2 separate regions of the Homo sapiens genome follow, and region 2 is linked to region 1. Evidence: fine-mapped expression QTL. A gene starts in region 1. The other region holds a variant in brackets. All regions are shown on one strand. Distances are between the middles of the regions.

Region 1 (8,804 bases):
AATAATAGCATTGGGTTCAGATCTGACTGGTTTGACTTCTCAGAGAGCCCAGCTTCTTGATTAAATGAGATTGGACACCTTCTTCCTTTCACAGACACTTACTACTTCTTCTATTTTTATTTTTATTTTTATTTTTTTGGTCTCCTTCGAATACTTTTATTTTTTACCTTCTTATTCTGACTGACATACTCCTTTCTGGATAAAATGTTTTGCTCTATTCACCAGATTCTAATTTGTTGTTGTTGTTGTTAAGGTCAGGATTAGAGTCTGATAGAAATGATCCATAACTAATCTGTACCGAAAAAAATGCCGTATTTATAAGATCATGCAAATGATTTCAGGGTGTTGTGGACAACCTTGATGTCCCAGGTTAAATTCCTATGCATCCTAGGTTAAAATTCCTGCCTTAGGCAGACCTTGCCCATTTTTGAGCTGACAAAGCTGAAGCCTAACAACCTTATCTTATTTTCCTCATGGCCAAGTTCTTAGGATCACCTTCCACCCTCACCTCTCTTCTCATTCCTCTACTTTCTAATCTTATATTAGGGCCACCGTGGTGACCTTGGAACTGTTCAGACCTTGTGGATACTTCCTCAGCCACAGGTACTGGGTTGAGGTCTAATGGTGATTGTAGTCAATCCTATTTTCTCACCTTTCCCCCTTTGACTTGTATCTTGCACTTTCTCTAGTATTCCAGTTAACACACTCCTCTTTTCTTCCCTCATTCCTTTTTTCTGGCAGGCTGTGCCCATGTCCCCTTGCATCGGGTATGACTGACATATTTCTCTCATTCACCGCCGGTCTTTGTCCTTCTTTCTCATAACCATATTCATAGCCCCATCTCGCTGTTTTACTCCTTCCATCTTCCTGTTTTTCTTTCCTACCAATGCTTCCAGGGCTTACATCCCTGGACATCATTTTCTCAGTTTCTTTCTATTCCTACCTCCACTACTGCTAAGCATTGCCTTTTTTTTTTTTCCTTTTTTTTTTTTTTTTTCCCCGAGATGGAATCTTGCTCTGTCACCCAGGCTGGAGTGCAGTGATGCGATCTCAGCTCACTGCAACCTCTGACCCCCAGGTTCAAGTGATTCTCCTGCCTCAGCCTCCCGAGTAGCTGGGATTACAGGTGCACAACATGCCTGGCTAACTTTTGTATTTTTAGTAGAGACAGGATTTCACCATGTTGGCCAGGCTAGTCTTGAACTCCTGACCTCGTGATCCACCGGCCTCAGCCTCCCAAAGTGCTGTGATTATAGGTGTGAGCCACCGTGCCCGGCCTAGCATTGTCTTTAATATATCTTTTTAAACATGATTTTCAAACCATATTTGTATTTCCCATTCAGACCACTCCTCTGAGCTCCAGACTTGCATATCCAACCTAATTACTATTTATACTTTGATGTCACAAAAACAATGGGTCAAAAATGAAACCAACACTTCTCTGCCTTCAGATTTCTCCTTCTCAGGAAATTGCACCCCAGTTCACATTGTAACTCAAGCCAGAAGAATCATCATTCATTGCATTCATTGTTCCTTTTTCTTTACCACCAACAACATGAGTAAGTCTGCTCCTCTTTCAAAATATATCTTAAGTCCAAAGCAGTGTCTTCATCCCCAGAGCCATAATCCTTAGCTCAAACTAGCATCATTTCTTACCTGAACCACGTCCAGCATCCTCTTTCACTACTCTCCCTGATTCGACACTGATCTCTCTCTAATCTGTTCTTCCCACAGCAGCTACAGCTTGCTTTTAAAAACAGAAATTATGTCACTCTCTACTTAACCCTCTTTAATAGCTTCCTATTCATTCACGAAACACATTTTTACTGAACACCCTCTATGTACCAGGCCCTCAAAAATCCCTGCCCTCATGAAATAAATGAAGTCTAGACAGGGGTAAGGGTTATGAAGGAAAGATGGGGTGAGGGATGGGGAGAGAGAGAGAGAGAGAGAGTGTGTGTGTGTGTGTGTGTGTGTGTGTGTGTGTGTGTTTACAATTTAAAAGAGAGTCCAGGCCAGGCACGGTGGCTCACGTCTGTAATCCCAGCACTTTGGGAGGCCGAGGCGGACAGATCACCTAAGGTTAGGAGTATGAGACCAGCCTGACCAACATGGTGAAACCCTGTCTCTACTAAAAATACAAAAAATTTTAGCTGGGCATGGTGCCACGTGCCTGTAGTGGGACTACTCTGGCGGCTGAGGGAGGAGAATCGCTTGAACCTGGTAGGTGGAGGTTGCAGTGAGCTGAGATCGCACCACTGCACTCCAGCCTGGGTGACAGAGACTCCTCAAAAAATAAAAAATAAAATAAAACAGAGAGTCCAGGGAAGACTTCACTGAGTCTGAGTAGGTGACCTTTGAGCAAAGGACTTGAAAGAGGTGAAGACAGTGAGCTTTGCAGAATATTCCATGTGGAGGGAGGCCCTGAGGTAGAGTCATGACTGGCTTTGGGACTGAACAGAATAGAATAAAATCCAAGCTTCACTATTTACTATGGCAAATACTAAGTATTTACTAAGGCAGCCCAGGCCCCTATTCCCCCAAAAAACAAAGACAAGAAACGATCCTCTTTATCTCCTTTCCTGACACTCCCTCCCTCAATACATACCATCCACACTGGTCTTCCAGTTTACCAGAAGTTGTTTCCTGCTTTTTCCTGTGTTGTGCATCTGCTAGGAATACTCCTCCAACCCTTATGCCCGTATACAATTTGCAAGGCTGGTTCCTTCTCATCCAATGGGTCTCAGTTTAAATTTCATTTTAGGCCTTTTCTGACCACAGGACCTAAAACATTTGGGCTCTTTTTGGCCGGGCGCGGTGGCTCACGCCTGTAATCCCAGCACTTTGGGAGGCCAAGGCGGGCGGATCACGACGTCAGGAGATCGAAACCATCCTAGCTAACACGGTGAAACCCCATCTCTACTAAAAATACAAAAAATTAGCCGGGCGTGGTGGCAGGCGCCTGTAGTCCCAGCTACTCGGGAGGCTGAGGCAGGAGAATGGCGTGAACCTGGGAGGCGGAGCTTGCAGTGAGCCGAGATCGTGCCACTGCACTCCAGCCTGGGCGACAGAGCAAGACTCCGTCTCACAAAAAAAAAAAAATAAAAAATAGGGCTCTTTTTCTTTCTTTCCTATGTCAGTTTCCTATTTGTTTCCTTCCTGACATCTACCACACCATGCAATTGGGATTCATATATATATGAATTTGACTTAAATCTCATTAGGTATAGTAAATGGCATCTGTCATTTAAACTTGCATTTGATCACTAGTGAAGATTAAGCATTTTCCCAAGTAATTGTTAGTTCTTAGCATGATCTATTTTCTATATTTTGGCCAAACAAATGTTCATTTAAAGTCACTTTGTTTTAAGGATGACAGCAGGGCTGGACAGCCAAAACCCTACCCTCTCCATTTATTTTGGAGGAATTTATTTTCCCAAGGTCCTGGCAGAGATAGTGACTCACCGTGACTATCTCTGCAAAAATCATTCCAAAACCCACACCAATTCAGAGAAAAGTGCTTCATTTCGATAACATCGACTTGTGAAAACGAGCAAGAAAGTTGCATTTGAGTGGTACCAGGTTTCACCATTATGCAGTTATCGAGCAATTATTAATGGCCAACCCAATTATACGCTACAAGGAAATGACGGTCACAGGGAAGCTCAAAGCCCCGAAGCGAGGGAAGCCCTGCTCCTCACCGGCCCCTCCGCCTTTTCCAGGGCGCTCTCCGTCCCGAGGCAGGAGATGGCCTGGTTGACCCTTCGAGACAAGGCGGCAAAACCGGTGCTGGGCTTGCGGGGCAGGGAATCAAGGTTCCTCCGGTTGCTGTACCGTCCCGCCCGGCCCCTCTCCCGGGCACCGGAGAGATGACGGCTCTCTCGCGAGAGCGCGAGCAAGACCCGGCTCCGGGCGGCGGCGGGATGTTAGCCCAGCGCTGTAGACCGCGCCCCCTCTGGCGCAGCTGGGAGAGGCGCGGCGGAGGCACTGCCGGGAGCGGCCGGCGGCGCGCACGCGCAGGTGAGCGGGGCGGGCTCGGGAGCGCGCGGGCACAAGGGCGAGGGGCGGGGCCTGCGTCGCGCTGCGGGCACGTCGCCGCGCGTCTTCAGTATTTAATGTCTCTGTGTTCCACCCGCCTGGGCTAGCACGTGGGGGAGCTGCGGAAGCGCGGCGCTGCGGGCCGGGCCGCGGGGCACAGCCGGGGGCCGGCGGCGGCGCGCGGACTCCGCATCCCGCACCCCGATGGTAGCCGAGGAGCTGGTAGGTCGGGGGCAGCTGCGCCGGGGACCCCCTGCCGGAGACCCGAAGGCGGCGGGGTCGGGGCGATGGGGAGCCTGAGGTGCAGGTGCAGGGTGCGACGCGCCCTCCAGGTACCCCGGGGGCGGGACGCTCCGGACGCAGAGGTGTCCTGGGGGCTCTCGGCCGCCGCGCGCTGTCAGGCAGGCCCATCTTTCCCTCCCTCGTCTGCGCCCCCTCTCGTCCTTCCCCGCCGGTTGTCTGCCCGCGGGCTCCTGACAGATCGCGTGTGCGCGGCTCTGGGCGGCGCTCTGCGGCCGCGCCGTCCTCCCCACGCGCGTCACTGTCCTCGGGGGCGGGGGGCGAGGGCGCGACGCCCGGGTCGCCTCTCTGCACCTCAACTTAACCGGAGCGTGCACACCCGCCTGCGAGGCTGACCCGAGCGCGTCCCACCCAAGGTCGCCCAGCCCCGCGGGCGTTTACTTTTCAAAGGTCGTGTGTACACAGTCTGAGCCGGAGCTGCCCCTTCACTTCTGGAGCCTCGCCCAACTTCTCACCCTCGGCTCGCCCGCCGGCGCAGCCCCTGGGAGTTCCGTGCGGCGAGCCAGGGGAACTGGGAAGATGGGCCGGGACATCGGCCGGTTGTGATCCAACCGTGTTTCGGGCTGAGGGACCGTTCGAACCGAATTGGGGTCTGGAGGTCGGAGGCTCAGGGGCGTCTCGGGGGGAATTTGCATTCGTAGCCCCTGCAGGCGTGTCCGGAGGGGTGGAGGCCGTCCAGCCTGGGGTGTCTGCCGACCTCACGCCCGGGGGCCCCGACGGTCACGTGTCCGGCCCCGCCTGCGGCCCAGGGCCCGGGGTCTGCGATCTGGAGGGACCGCGCCAGTTTTGGGGTTACGATGTGCTAGGAGAGGCAGTGGCTGGATGCCTCGAACGCGGGCTTTCTGGCGTTCAACTCTTTTGTGCCCTAGCTGAAGGTCTTCCTGTTTCCCTTCCAGGGAGGGATAGGAGAAGAAAGGTGCTGATCGTGGTAGGCGGTGCTGTGGCGACTCGGAACGGCATGGGAGCCCTGGGCGTTTCGGGATCTTCCTCTCCTGGGGGATGTCCTGGGTGGCGGCGCCTTCCTGCCGCCGTTAACACAAACCCGGTGGACTTCGCTCCAGGTGCGAGTCGAGGCCTCTCAAGCTGGGTAGGGTGTATGCGCAGGGCAATTAGTGAGGTTAACCTGGGTATCTTTCCCCTACTGTAGTGCGCGTTACTTCGTGTTTAGATTTGTCTCCAGTGAAATCTAGGCTGCTGGACCTGGTGCAACAGTATCTGTTAGTTACTGATCAAGGAACACCGTTCACAAAAAGCTATTAATTCTGGCAACTAGTAGCCTTACAAGCTCTTGTAACTGCTAAGTCCTTCCCAAATTAGTACCTTTTTTTTTTTTAACTCTTTATTTAGAAAGCAAAGCTTGGACTCTTAGCACCACCCATCCACTTTGCTCTTAAAGGTACAGAACATCTTTGAAATGAAGAAGGCTGCCTGACTTGATCATTTATATAATTCCTCTGATCTTGGCATTGAAGTGGTTCACCTGCTGATTATTTAAGACCCTGAGCACTGGAAGCAAGTGAAGTTATGTTTTGGGAACCTTTTGACTTGTGTTGAACTTTTCTTTAACCTCTAACTAGTTTTGTAGGTTCTGCATAATTCTTGGGTGTATTCTCTTTGAAATATGGCCCTAGGTTAGAGGAGGTCCTCTGGATCCTACAGGCATGCAAATCACTAAAGCTTGAGTCCATTACTGGATTAATAGGCTCTGTCTTCATGCATGTTGTCAGATGATGGCTCAGAACTTGCAGGTAACAGATCCTAGCCAATGAGTGAGACAGGTCTAATGGATTTGTGTCTAGGTCTAGTTCCTTGTAGGAATATCTCTCCCATCTCCCAGTTGTTTCTAGGAAATGCATTCTCACTTGGCCACTGCAGGGTGACAGTGGAGGTGTCTGTTGTAAGTGGCCTGCTCAGGTGCTGAAGTCGATATGTCTCCAGTGTAAGGTTGCTGAACATCAATATTTAAAAGCAATTTATCTTGCTGCCTGGTAACCCAAATTATTCTTGAGCTTTGGACATAGGCTGGGTTGCAGCCATATTTTAGGGGAAGGCTGGTGTTAGCCTCTACAGTATTCCCTTTTCCTGTCCTAAAGACAAATGGAGATCATATTTGTGATACTGGGGACTGTGATAGGTGCTTAAGCATTGCTCTTCCCCTCTCCTCCCTGAACAATCCCTGAGACTGACTTTGTTTCTCTTGAATTACTTGAGTGACTTGAATTCTATTAAAAGCACCCCTCTCCTTAGCCTCTGACCCAGAAGCTTGTTTGGGAGGAAAAACGAATTGGTTTCCCTAAGCTTTGCTGGCTAGCCTCCTGCTCCCAGCCTGCAACATGACTTGATTGTGTGTGCATTTCAGGGCTTTGAAGAGCAGGCAGCTTGTAGCCAATGTACCCAGAGAGCTGGCCGTAGAGTTCCCCTAGGTCACTCCTTCCTAATCTTCCCTGTGAGTCTGAATGATTGGGCCTTTCTGTAGCTTGGTCTGTTTTCCTATTGTGGGGAAGTCAGTTGTTTCAGGTATGAGTTAATACCTTCAGCTTGTCATTCTCAGGCGTTTTCTTCCACTATGGGGAGGTAGTAGATCCTGTGGGCATCTTGTCCCATTGAAATCATCTCATATACTGTTTGAGAGTTGCTCATCTTTATGGTGGGGGGTGTATTTTAGTCCTAAATCTTGCTTCTTAGGGCAAGTTCTGTTTCTTCCATGTTCCTTCCTGGTGTAATACCTCAGGCAGTTTTCACTTTTATGATCATTTAACATTAAGTTCCCATCACATGTGGCATCCCACTGAAGGAACCTCCTGGCCTTGGTACCTAATTTGAAGCTTGGGCTGTGGAAAACATCATCAGTGAGCATGTTTGAAGTAGGACAGAGTCTGGCTGGAGAAACAGGTAGTGGGGGAGCTGGGAGCTAAACTTGAGAGGATGCCTCTTTCTTGATAGTTACTGTGCTAGGTGAGTTATGAGCACACTAATCCTTTAATCCTCACACCTCTGAGAACAGTGAGGGTGAAGCTGGAGGTCATTCTGGATTGTTTCAGTGGCTGTCACACAAATTCAAATTGAGGGGTAGAGGAACTAGGAAGCGTGGGTGTGGAGTTAAAACTAGGTCCTCTGGATGGCTTTTGTGAGAAGAACCAAGGAATATTCTTAAATCCCTGGGCTTTTCTCCTAATCTTTCTGCTGCTTTCTAAGTAGATTGTTAACATTGTGTGTGTTATCATTCAGCATTCTGAGAACTAGCTTTCCAGCAATAAATAGCTTTCAAGGTGTCCTTTGCCTTAACTTTTTCATTTTACTAAATGGTGCAGCCTTGTCCACATTCTGTCCGGGTCTTCACCATCTGGTTGTTTTTCCGGCTTGGTTTGATAGTTTGCAGCAGTCAGTGGTAAACATTGTGTTCCCTGTTCTGTAATGGTGGCTGGTTGTGTTCACCGAGCCAGGTGTCACTAAGGCCCAGTTGCACTTGGGAGCAAAGAAGGGCCCTGAGGTGAGTCCTGGAAGTAAAAATATGTATAACCTAGGGCTGATGAGGCTTGTTTCACTGCTGGGCTTAGCTGACAAGAGCCTGGGACTTGCTGCAGCTCTCAGAGCTGAAACCTGGCGGTGATTCTAGGCAGGCTGGTTGGCCTTCCAGATCTTGGTTTATTCAGTGGCTAAAAGAGGTTTGGTCAAAATTATCAGTATTCAGATTATGGTCCTGGGAGCCTTGGAGTTAGACCAAACGTGCCCAGGGGCCACTGGAGTGATGTGTTTGGGCTGGGGAGCACAGCTCAATGGGTAGTACATGTCAAAGACTTAAGGGGAAAAAAAACAACTCACTGTTCATCTCAAGTTCTTAGCTCTAAGGTGTGCTACTGTTCTAAATATTTTTTATTTTTAAAGATAGCTTTATTTGCCTAAATTTGTCCTGGGTGTGGGGAGTTTAGAGCTGCCTTGTCTGTAGGGTAGCTGCTAGCTGTGTGACTAATTAAACTTTTCAAAGTATTTTTAAAAAAATTTCTTAGTGACATTAGCCACATTTCAGGTTCTCAGTGGCCTCGTGTAGCTAGTGGCTGCCGTCCTGGTCAGTACAGGTCAAGAACATTTTCCATAATCGAAGAAAGTTTTGTTGGACAGCGCCGGCCTAGAAAGTTTTTTTTTCTCCAACTCTAAAAGCTTAATTGTCTCAACTTGTAAATCTCTAAAGCATAACATGTTTGAGCTTAGTCTTCCAGAGTCCATAAACCCAACAGCTTTGGTGACAAATTATCTACTGGTTGTCTCCATGGCATACTACAAGTGAGTTCTAGTCTGCCAGTTGGGAGTGGACGAACAGTTTTGAAACAGTTTGAGTGAGGACCTTCAGAAAGGACCTGGGGACAGGAGCGTGAAGCAAAGGTCCAGATGCTAAGCCCTTAGAAAGCCCTTTTGGTTTGAAGCCGTTTATTATCATAAAGATCCCTGCTGGTTTGTCCTTGGTCTCC
Region 2 (8,702 bases), 25 kb after region 1:
TGGCCTCTTTAGAGGGGGAAGAAGATAAGGGGAAGAGCAGCTCATCCCAGGTGGTGGGGCCAGTGCAGGAGGAAGAGTATGTAGCAGAGAAGTTGCCAAGTAGGTTCATCGAGTCGGCTCACACAGAGCTGGCAAAGGACGATGCGGCGCCAGCACCCCCAGTCGCAGACGCCAAAGCCCAGGATAGAGGTGTCGAGGGAGAACTGGGCAATGAGGAGAGCTTGGATAGAAATGAGGAGGGCTTGGATAGAAATGAGGAGGGCTTGGATAGAAATGAGGAGAGCTTGGATAGAAATGAGGAGGGCTTGGATAGAAATGAGGAGATTAAGCGGGCTGCCTTCCAGATAATCTCCCAAGTGATCTCAGAAGCAACCGAACAGGTGCTGGCCACCACGGTTGGCAAGGTTGCAGGTCGTGTGTGTCAGGCCAGTCAGCTCCAAGGGCAGAAGGAAGAGAGCTGTGTCCCAGTTCACCAGAAAACTGTCTTGGGCCCAGACACTGCGGAGCCTGCCACAGCAGAGGCAGCTGTTGCCCCGCCGGATGCTGGCCTCCCCTTGCCAGGCCTACCAGCAGAGGGCTCACCACCACCAAAGACCTACGTGAGCTGCCTGAAGAGCCTTCTGTCCAGCCCCACCAAGGACAGTAAGCCAAATATCTCTGCACACCACATCTCCCTGGCCTCCTGCCTGGCACTGACCACCCCCAGTGAAGAGTTGCCGGACCGGGCAGGCATCCTGGTGGAAGATGCCACCTGTGTCACCTGCATGTCAGACAGCAGCCAAAGTGTCCCTTTGGTGGCTTCTCCAGGACACTGCTCAGATTCTTTCAGCACTTCAGGGCTTGAAGACTCTTGCACAGAGACCAGCTCGAGCCCCAGGGACAAGGCCATCACCCCGCCACTGCCAGAAAGTACTGTGCCCTTCAGCAATGGGGTGCTGAAGGGGGAGTTGTCAGACTTGGGGGCTGAGGATGGATGGACCATGGATGCGGAAGCAGATCATTCAGGAGGTAGGAGGGTCTCGGGTTCGTTTAGAGGATGGGGCGCTCCCAGTATTTCTTGGAGAAAGGCTGCCAGTCTGCCTCTCCCTTCTGCTACTTGTGCAGCAAAGTCATAGTGCTCTTCAGCTCTTTATCGCAACCTGCAGAGGTCTGGACACGGCGTAGAGCTGGTGGGTAACTGAGGAGTTAGATTGCCCTGAAACCCCAAGTCATGGGAGCTGTAACTTGGTTCCTCAACCGGTGACCTTCCCCAGTGAGCCCTTCCCAAGGAACTAGCGCCAAGTTGGGCTCGCTGATTAACATTAGTGTGCCTCTTTTTCTTTGTTTAAAAAAATTATTATTATTTTGGTGCAGATGGAGTCTTCCTTTGTTGCCCAGGCTGGTCTCGCACTCCTGGGCTCAAGTGATCCTTCCGCCCTCGGCCTCCCAGAGTGCTGGGTTTATAGGTGTGAGTCACTATGCCCAGCCCATTTTTTTTTCTTTTTTAAACACTAACCTCTTTGTGTGTGCGTGTGTGTGTGTGTTTTAATGGAGAGGCCTCCTTAGCTTTACTTCCCTTGAGTGCCAGGTATGGGTGTGAGTGTTTTGAATGGTTTTTATTTCCTTTTAATCATGTGCTTGTTCCCATGTCTTCACCTGCTTTCCTTCTCCAGAAGCTCTTACAGGGTAAGTGCCCAAAGAACGGCCACAGCTTTGAATACTTGTGGGAGGCTTGAGCTTCCTGAGTTGTCGCTGTCACCTTTGCAGAAAGCCTCAGCCATTTTCTTTCTGTGCAGTTGCAGCTCCACCCCCGGGAAAGCGGGGCACTTTGATAACGAGGTGTCCTGGGTTTTTCGAGTGCTGACCCCAGCGTAGACAGTTCAGACCGCTAACTTACAGGTCAGCAGCTCCTGACCCTGCTTCTGCAGGCACCCTGGGGTGTTTTCATTTATCTCATGGAGAGAGGCCACGAATATCCCGAGTGGCTCTCTGACTTGTTTGTCCTGGAGCCATTCCCTCCCATTTCAGCTCCGGGTAGGTTGGGAATCTTTATTGGGAATTTTACCACTTTCAGCAGCATCTAGTTTGTACCACACGCTACATTTTGTCACCTCCAAGATGCTGTTAAGACACTACTGTTTTTATGTACCTTGGAAAGAAAAAAGTGCTGCCAGTCATGATTATAGAAGGCAAGATACTATATGATGCATCCTAATCTCGGGATGTTTAAATGTTTCTTAAAATACTGCATCTGAAAATGGGTGATTTTTATTTTATTTATTTTTTAAGAATAAAGGAGTTTCCCTTTGCTTACTGCCCCTCAGCTGAATTAACAAGCCCCGCAGCCTTGTCTGCCAACTCTAGATGGATAGTAGTAGCTACTCAGACCTGTTGAAGTCTTCTGAGTTTAGGCTTGAACCTAAGCCGTGGTGATGGGCAGGGAGGTTTAGGGATGGCACGTGGAAATGAGGTAATACTGTCCACGAGCATGCGGTGGGTGCCAAGCACGAGGTTAGTGCCTCGCATGTACCTTCATGTCAGCCCTGCTTTGTTTGTGAGGAAGTTGAAGCTGAGAAGGGGACCAGGGACCACCCCACTGAGGGAGCTGGAAGCTGGCCTTTGAGTGCAGCCTGCTAGAGTCCGGGTGTGGTTCTGAGCCACTGCTGGGAGCCATCGGGATGGCAGGTGTTAGCCAGTCCCATTCTGTGGGGCAGAGGCTGGATACTGTGAGTGAGCAGAGCTCCCCGCCCCCTCGCCCAGCCCCTGTCAGCCTGTTATGCTTCCCGCAGGCTAGCCAAGCAGTCTTCCCCCAGAAGGGGTACTTTTCCCTGCATGAATCCTGTTCGAAGCGCCTAGTGTTAAGGGGGGAAGTCATTTTGAAGGTGATTCTTCCTTAGCTGGGAGCAGGATCTCTTGGGCCTTAGTTCTCTGCATCCAGTGTATGGGTTACTTGGCAAAGGATTATACTCAGGGTTTGGAGAAACCATGTGGAAGGTAACCTAATTGGTAGACTCTCAGGAGTGATCTATTTCTGGTGATTGAGTCATCCATATTTAAGCCAGGGCCACTTCTCTTGAGCTGATCTGGACCCGCTTTTTTGTGACGGTCCCTTTGGCACGCTCTTGAGTGAGAGTGGAACAGCCCAGGTCGGGAGCAGAGTCTGTTCCCATTGGGTTTTCTTGGGCATGAGCTTTGGCTCAGTCTTTTGACCAAGGGAGTATTTGAGCCAGAAGAGTGTTCAGAGTTGCATGAATCAGGCCTAAGCAAAGGGAAAGGAGACTCTCCTTTTTTAGTCCACATATGGCAGAGGAACGAGCGGGTCCCCGCTAGGTATAAGAATGGGGCCCTCAGGCAGGCCAGTGAGGACTTTGTCTAGCTCTGCTGGGCTGAAGGCCAGTACCTATGACCCTGGGACTGGGCCCTGGGGACAGGAGACTGACCCTTGGTCTGAGGGGGTAGGATAGTTGGAAGGGTGTCAAGGTGTTTGTGGTCCATCGGTCTGGCTCTCAGGACCATGTGGACCTCAAGCGTGTCTCCTCCCCCGCCCTCTGGGCTCCCCTTCCCTGGGCGCAGTCTGTCTCTTCCAAGTTCACCACTTGTGTCTCTGCTCCAGCAGCTGTGGCTGGGTGCGGCTGCCAATTAAGCAAGTGGGACTGTAAGTGACAGGCTAAAATTAGGTGTATCGACACCCCCAGTTCTCCTTTCATTGGGGTTGTTCTGAGCCTTCTAGACTGTAAGTTGACAGTCACCTGCCAAGCTTGAGGAGCGGGTGTGGGGCAGGGCCTCCTGGGAATGTGAGTTTGGGAAGTTCTTGGTTACTGGCTGCTCTGAGTGGGGTCTGTGTGTGTGCGTGCCTGCTGCTTCTTCCCCTGCAGGTTCTGACAGGAACAGCATGGATTCCGTGGATAGCTGTTGCAGTCTCAAGAAGACTGAGAGCTTCCAAAATGCCCAGGCAGGCTCCAACCCTAAGAAGGTCGACCTCATCATCTGGGAGATCGAGGTGCCAAAGGTAGGGGCGGAGTCCCCCAGGCTGGTTCTGTGGTAAGCCCAAAGCTCCCTGGGGCCAGGGCCATTAGACCTCAGGGAGGGAGGGGGCTGGGAGAGGGACAGTAAACCAGAAGGAGCCCTGGGTCAGCCAAAGGCCGCAGGGAAAGGACACGCTACACTTTGCCAAGGCTCAGAGAGCTTCCTGCAACATGGAATTCCTCCAGCTGCCTCCAGGAGCATCTTATTCTTGTACTTCTCAAACTCGCAGGCCTGTGTGTCTCCCTTGGGGGTGGTTCTTGCATATTCTGGGGCTCAGATCTATTTGGAAAAAAAACACCAAGGCCGTGGGGGCCAGCCAGAATCCCTTCACTGAGCTCTGCTCAAGTGCTCCAAGTGTATTTTATAATTGAGCAAAGCATAAATCCATATTTTAGAGAACTTGAAAAGTATAGAAATACATGCAGAAAATAAAAATCAGCTCTAATCCTACCCTTGAGAGTGACTGTGAAAGACTTTTATTTCCTTCTCATCTTGCACCCTGTGGTTTTTAAACAAAACTGAGATTATGTCGCTTTAATTAATACTTTAAATATTTAACAATTTAATTTTCGTGTGTTATTCTTTGAAAATGTAACTGTAACTGCATTATTCACTGTGTGGATGTCAGTTTACTTCATCAGTCCCCCATTCCTGAGTGCTTAAGTGGTTTCGAGCTTCTTGCTATTAGAACTTACAACATATTAGCTTGATCTTGATGTTTATCTCTGGGGCTCAGAAATAATTTGTCAGACCGCATTCTCCCAGGGCCCTGGGCTCTGTGCTCAGGTGGAGACTTGGCTTGGTCTGAACTCTGGGTCAGAGTGGCTGTTTTGACC[C/G]TGGGTTGCGAGGTCTCTTGGTGGTTTCCTCCCTGGGGGGCCCTGTTATCCGTCCTGCCTGCTTTTCCTTCAGTGGTTACAAAGGGCATGAAGAGAAAGGCTGTGCCTGAGGATGGACCATGTCCCCAGTAGCTCCTCCGGGAGGGGGTCGTTGGCGGTTGTGTGGGAGCCCATCTTACGTAAGGGCTAAGTTTGGCTGCTTCTATCTGCCTTGAACTCTGGCGCACTGGGCACTTCTGCATGCCTCCTGCTCTGCAGGCTTCAGCCTGCTGTCACTTGGCAGCGGGAGCCCAGGGTTCTTAGACCTTCATTTTCAAATCGAGCCCCTTTATCTTTGGATCTGAGTAGACTTGAGGGAGAGGGGCACGAGAAATCGAGAAACTGTGTGCTGGTGAAACTTCTCAGCATGGCTTTTAGAGGAGAAGATGCTGCTGCCTTTGCAGCTTTCCGGGTCTGGGCCACATTGTTGGGATGAAATGGGAACTGCTTGGTCCTGGAGCCAGACTGCCTGGTTCGACTTCCTGGTTAGCAGCTGTGTGACCTTAAGGTAGTTACTTAGCCTCTCTGGGCTTGTTTCCCCATATACAGAATGGTGATAAAGTTATCTGTGTTTCACAGGTACTATGAGTAAATGTAAGTGCTTAGAATAGTCCTGGAAAATAAATGCTGACATGGTAACAGCTAATATGTTTGAGCATGATCTTGTGTAAAACAGAAGTAGGTCTTTGGGTGTCCAGGGAATTGGTTTCCCTTTAACCCTCTCATCTCTTTTTGTCTTTCTGGAAGCACTTAGTCGGTCGGCTAATTGGCAAGCAGGGGCGCTATGTGAGTTTTCTGAAGCAAACATCTGGTGCCAAGATCTACATTTCAACCCTGCCTTACACCCAGAGCGTCCAGATCTGCCACATAGAAGGTCAGTAACATCTGCTGCTTGTATTGCCTCTTACCTGAAATATTAAATAGAAGTGAATAGCATCTGAGTTTCAATTGCTATCTTTTTGGAATAGGAAACCCTGCTTCTCATCCCAGGGAAGGGAGCATTAGGTATCTTCCCTGCAGCCTTTTCCCCATTTCAGGTGCCTGCGGGAGACTCAGGTCCCTCCCTACTCTGATCTTTGGCCAGGAGAAGTGTGGGTGCTTGGTTGGGCGGGGCCTGGGTCCTGGGTTCATAGTGCCCACCACCCCATAAAGGCTTCTCTCAAAGCAGAAGTGCCCTGTGTGCAATTCCCCCTTGGCATTTTCACAGCTGCCTGCCTCTTCTGTTGCATTGAAAGCATGGATCATAATGGCAGAGGTATCATTTGAAAGGCTTAGATGCCTTTCTTCCTAAAGCAGAGCTTAAGTGTTTTGTTACCTCAAAGATGCACTTGAACTCTATGCAAAGTCCAGTGGAGTGGGGTCTGTGGCTGTGTTTTTGTGAGTGTGGGTGTGAGTTTCCTCTTACAGTGATTGTATGTCCTGCCCCCATCCGCTATTTAGGCTCTCAACATCATGTAGACAAAGCGCTGAACTTGATTGGGAAGAAGTTCAAAGAGCTGAACCTCACCAATATCTACGCTCCCCCATTGCCTTCACTGGCACTGCCTTCTCTGCCGATGACATCCTGGGTGAGCGTGCTACTGGGTGATCCGGACTTCTTGCCACTTTCCCCCAAACCTACCCCAAACAAGAAACTCCCCAGACCTCAGGCTAAGAAGGCCAAGTGCACATGAGTGCCTGCGCCCTCTCTTCTCTGGCCTCTGCTGGTCGGTTCTGCTATGGGACTGTGTTCTGGGGACAGGGCTTAGGTGGTGATAGCGCTGGCAGGAAACCAGAGGCCTCTTGGTCCCCACATGGGAGGACTACTTTTCCTGGCTCTCCCCCTGGGCACCTTTTAAGTTTTCTAGGCGTTTGCTTAGAAAGGATGGTGTAGTTCGGACAGGAGATTGGGTGTGTCCAGGGTCGCCGTTCACCACCTGAGACCTGGGTGGGACTAGAATCATGGGTTTGGATGGCGCTTGTTCTTTCTTCTGGTTGAGTCAGGCCTTAACAGTGGCCCTGGTGAAGGATCTCCTTCCCCTTCCCCTCCCCAGGAGGTGCCTAAATTACAAAGAAGAATGAATACTCCCCACCAGGCCCGGAAGTCCAGTGACTCTTGGGAGGTTGCCCCAGGAGTTTGGCAGAGGGAAGAGCTGCTATCTCCAGGGCCCCTGTGTGCTGCTGACTGCAGGGTCTCTCAGGGCCGTGGCCCATATCCTGCCGTGTGCCTCTGGCCCTGGTTGGGTCTTATCTCACTGGGAGTAGAATTGCAGAATTCTGTGGGCCAACGACTGTTGACTACGTTTTACACAGATGGACAGATGGGCTGACTATAGCTCCAAGGAAATTGTCCTCCTTCGTGTTTTTTTTTTGTTTTTTTGTTTTTTTATGGATGGTAGGCATTTCAGTTTTGTGTCTTCCCCTTTGCAAAGGCCCTTGGGCTGGAGGGAAAGGATTGGGATATCTTTTTCCTGTGGATATGTGAGAGTAGGCTGAATACCACTTTATGCTTTACTCCTGAATCAAGAGTTTTTTCCCAGGAGGCTCGGTCGTAGACTCACTCTCTTTTTTTTTTTTTTTTTTTTTTTTTTGAGACAGAGTCTCACTCTGTTGCCCAGTCTGGAGTGTAGTGGCATGATCTTGGCTCACTGCAACCTCTGCCCACCAGGTTCAAACGATTATCCTGCCCCAGCCTCCTGAGTAGCTGGGATTACAGGTGTGCTCCACCATGCCCAGCTAATTTGTATGTTTTTAGTAGAGATGGGATTTCACCATGTTTGCCAGGCTGGTCTTGAACTCCTGACCTCAGGAGGGTAAGCAGTAGGAGGGAGAGCAAATAGGAAGCAGACTCTGCTAGACCTTGACCATGGACCTGACCTGAGGCCACTGCTTGCTCTTGGGAGGGCAGCGTAGATGCTGTCAGACCATAGGCTCCTGGGGTTGTCTGCCAGTCCACAGGAGTTGGCTAAAGGGCCTGGGGCCTGCCTACTGCTTATTTTCAGGAGTCTTGTTCTCAGCGGCCACCTCATTCCTGTGTTGCCCTCCCTGGGTCTTATAGATTCATCAACAGAAGTGGGAGGGAGGGCACTGCTGGTAGGTGGACCCTGCCCAGGCCTGTGCAAGGCCCAGCACTACCTCCGCAGTTGCTTCTTGGTTGCCCAGTGTCTGTGGGACCCTCCCTGCCTGGCCCTGAGGTGAGACTGCCCCTAATGGCTGCTCGTGGTATTGCAGGACAACAGCCACAGGGGTGTCGAACACTTTCTGTTGTTAAAGTAGTCCTTCAACCTCTACCTTCTGGGTGCCATGTTGTCTTGAGTTGCCCTTTTCAAAGATATGCTAGCCCAGAGACTTGCCCTTGGGTCTCGGGACTTATTCAAAGATGAGATAAGAAGGATTGTTTCAGTGACCGCTCCCCCTTCCCCTCTACAGCTCATGCTGCCTGATGGCATCACCGTGGAGGTCATTGTGGTCAACCAGGTCAATGCCGGGCACCTGTTCGTGCAGCAGCACACACACCCTACCTTCCACGCGCTGCGCAGCCTCGACCAGCAGATGTACCTCTGTTACTCTCAGCCTGGAATCCCCACCTTGCCCACCCCAGTGGAAAGTAAGCAGTGCCCTGAGGGGTCGGGAAGGGGGACCCCTGGGGTTGCCTGTTCTGCCCTGGATCCTGATCAGGAGGAGGCTGTTCTGCGATCCTTCATGGAAGCAGCATCCTTCAATTCTTGCCATTGTTATGGAGCTGGGGTGGGTTTCCTGGCAAGGCAGAGCTGGGGTTTCCACTGGCTGGCAGAGTGATGGGTGTTGGAGTAGAGTTTTGACACAGGGATTCAGATCCCAGCT

Direction of the effects. Positions count from the first base shown, and alleles are read on the strand shown. Sizes are in standard deviations (SD) of each study's normalised expression.
For the expression in subcutaneous fat of the gene that starts at base 4,108 in region 1, C is the low allele of the variant in region 2 and G is the other (small effect, 0.32 SD a copy in TwinsUK).

What was found.
Region 2: its variant is fine-mapped to the expression of AKAP1 in subcutaneous fat (TwinsUK, PIP 0.95).

Annotation. Positions count from the first base shown.
Region 1 is chr17:57,081,139-57,089,942 of GRCh38, forward strand. It overlaps AKAP1 (A-kinase anchoring protein 1), which reads left to right and starts at 4,108. Exons shown (of 11, transcript NM_003488.4): 1 at 4,108-4,260. It overlaps AKAP1-DT (AKAP1 divergent transcript), which reads right to left and starts at 3,900. Exons shown (of 3, transcript NR_186437.1): 1 at 3,702-3,900. RefSeq lists enhancers at 3,565-3,644, 4,684-5,186 and silencers at 3,865-4,444, 4,485-4,784, 5,065-5,154.
Region 2 is chr17:57,106,171-57,114,872 of GRCh38, forward strand. It overlaps AKAP1 (A-kinase anchoring protein 1), which reads left to right. Exons shown (of 11, transcript NM_003488.4): 2 at 1-1,008; 3 at 3,855-3,988; 4 at 5,628-5,754; 5 at 6,321-6,448; 6 at 8,289-8,466. Among named protein-coding and RNA genes, the nearest start is that of AKAP1, 25 kb to the left of the region's middle. RefSeq lists an enhancer at 2,699-3,300 and a silencer at 7,898-8,192. The variant C/G (reference allele first, on the strand shown) is at 4,842.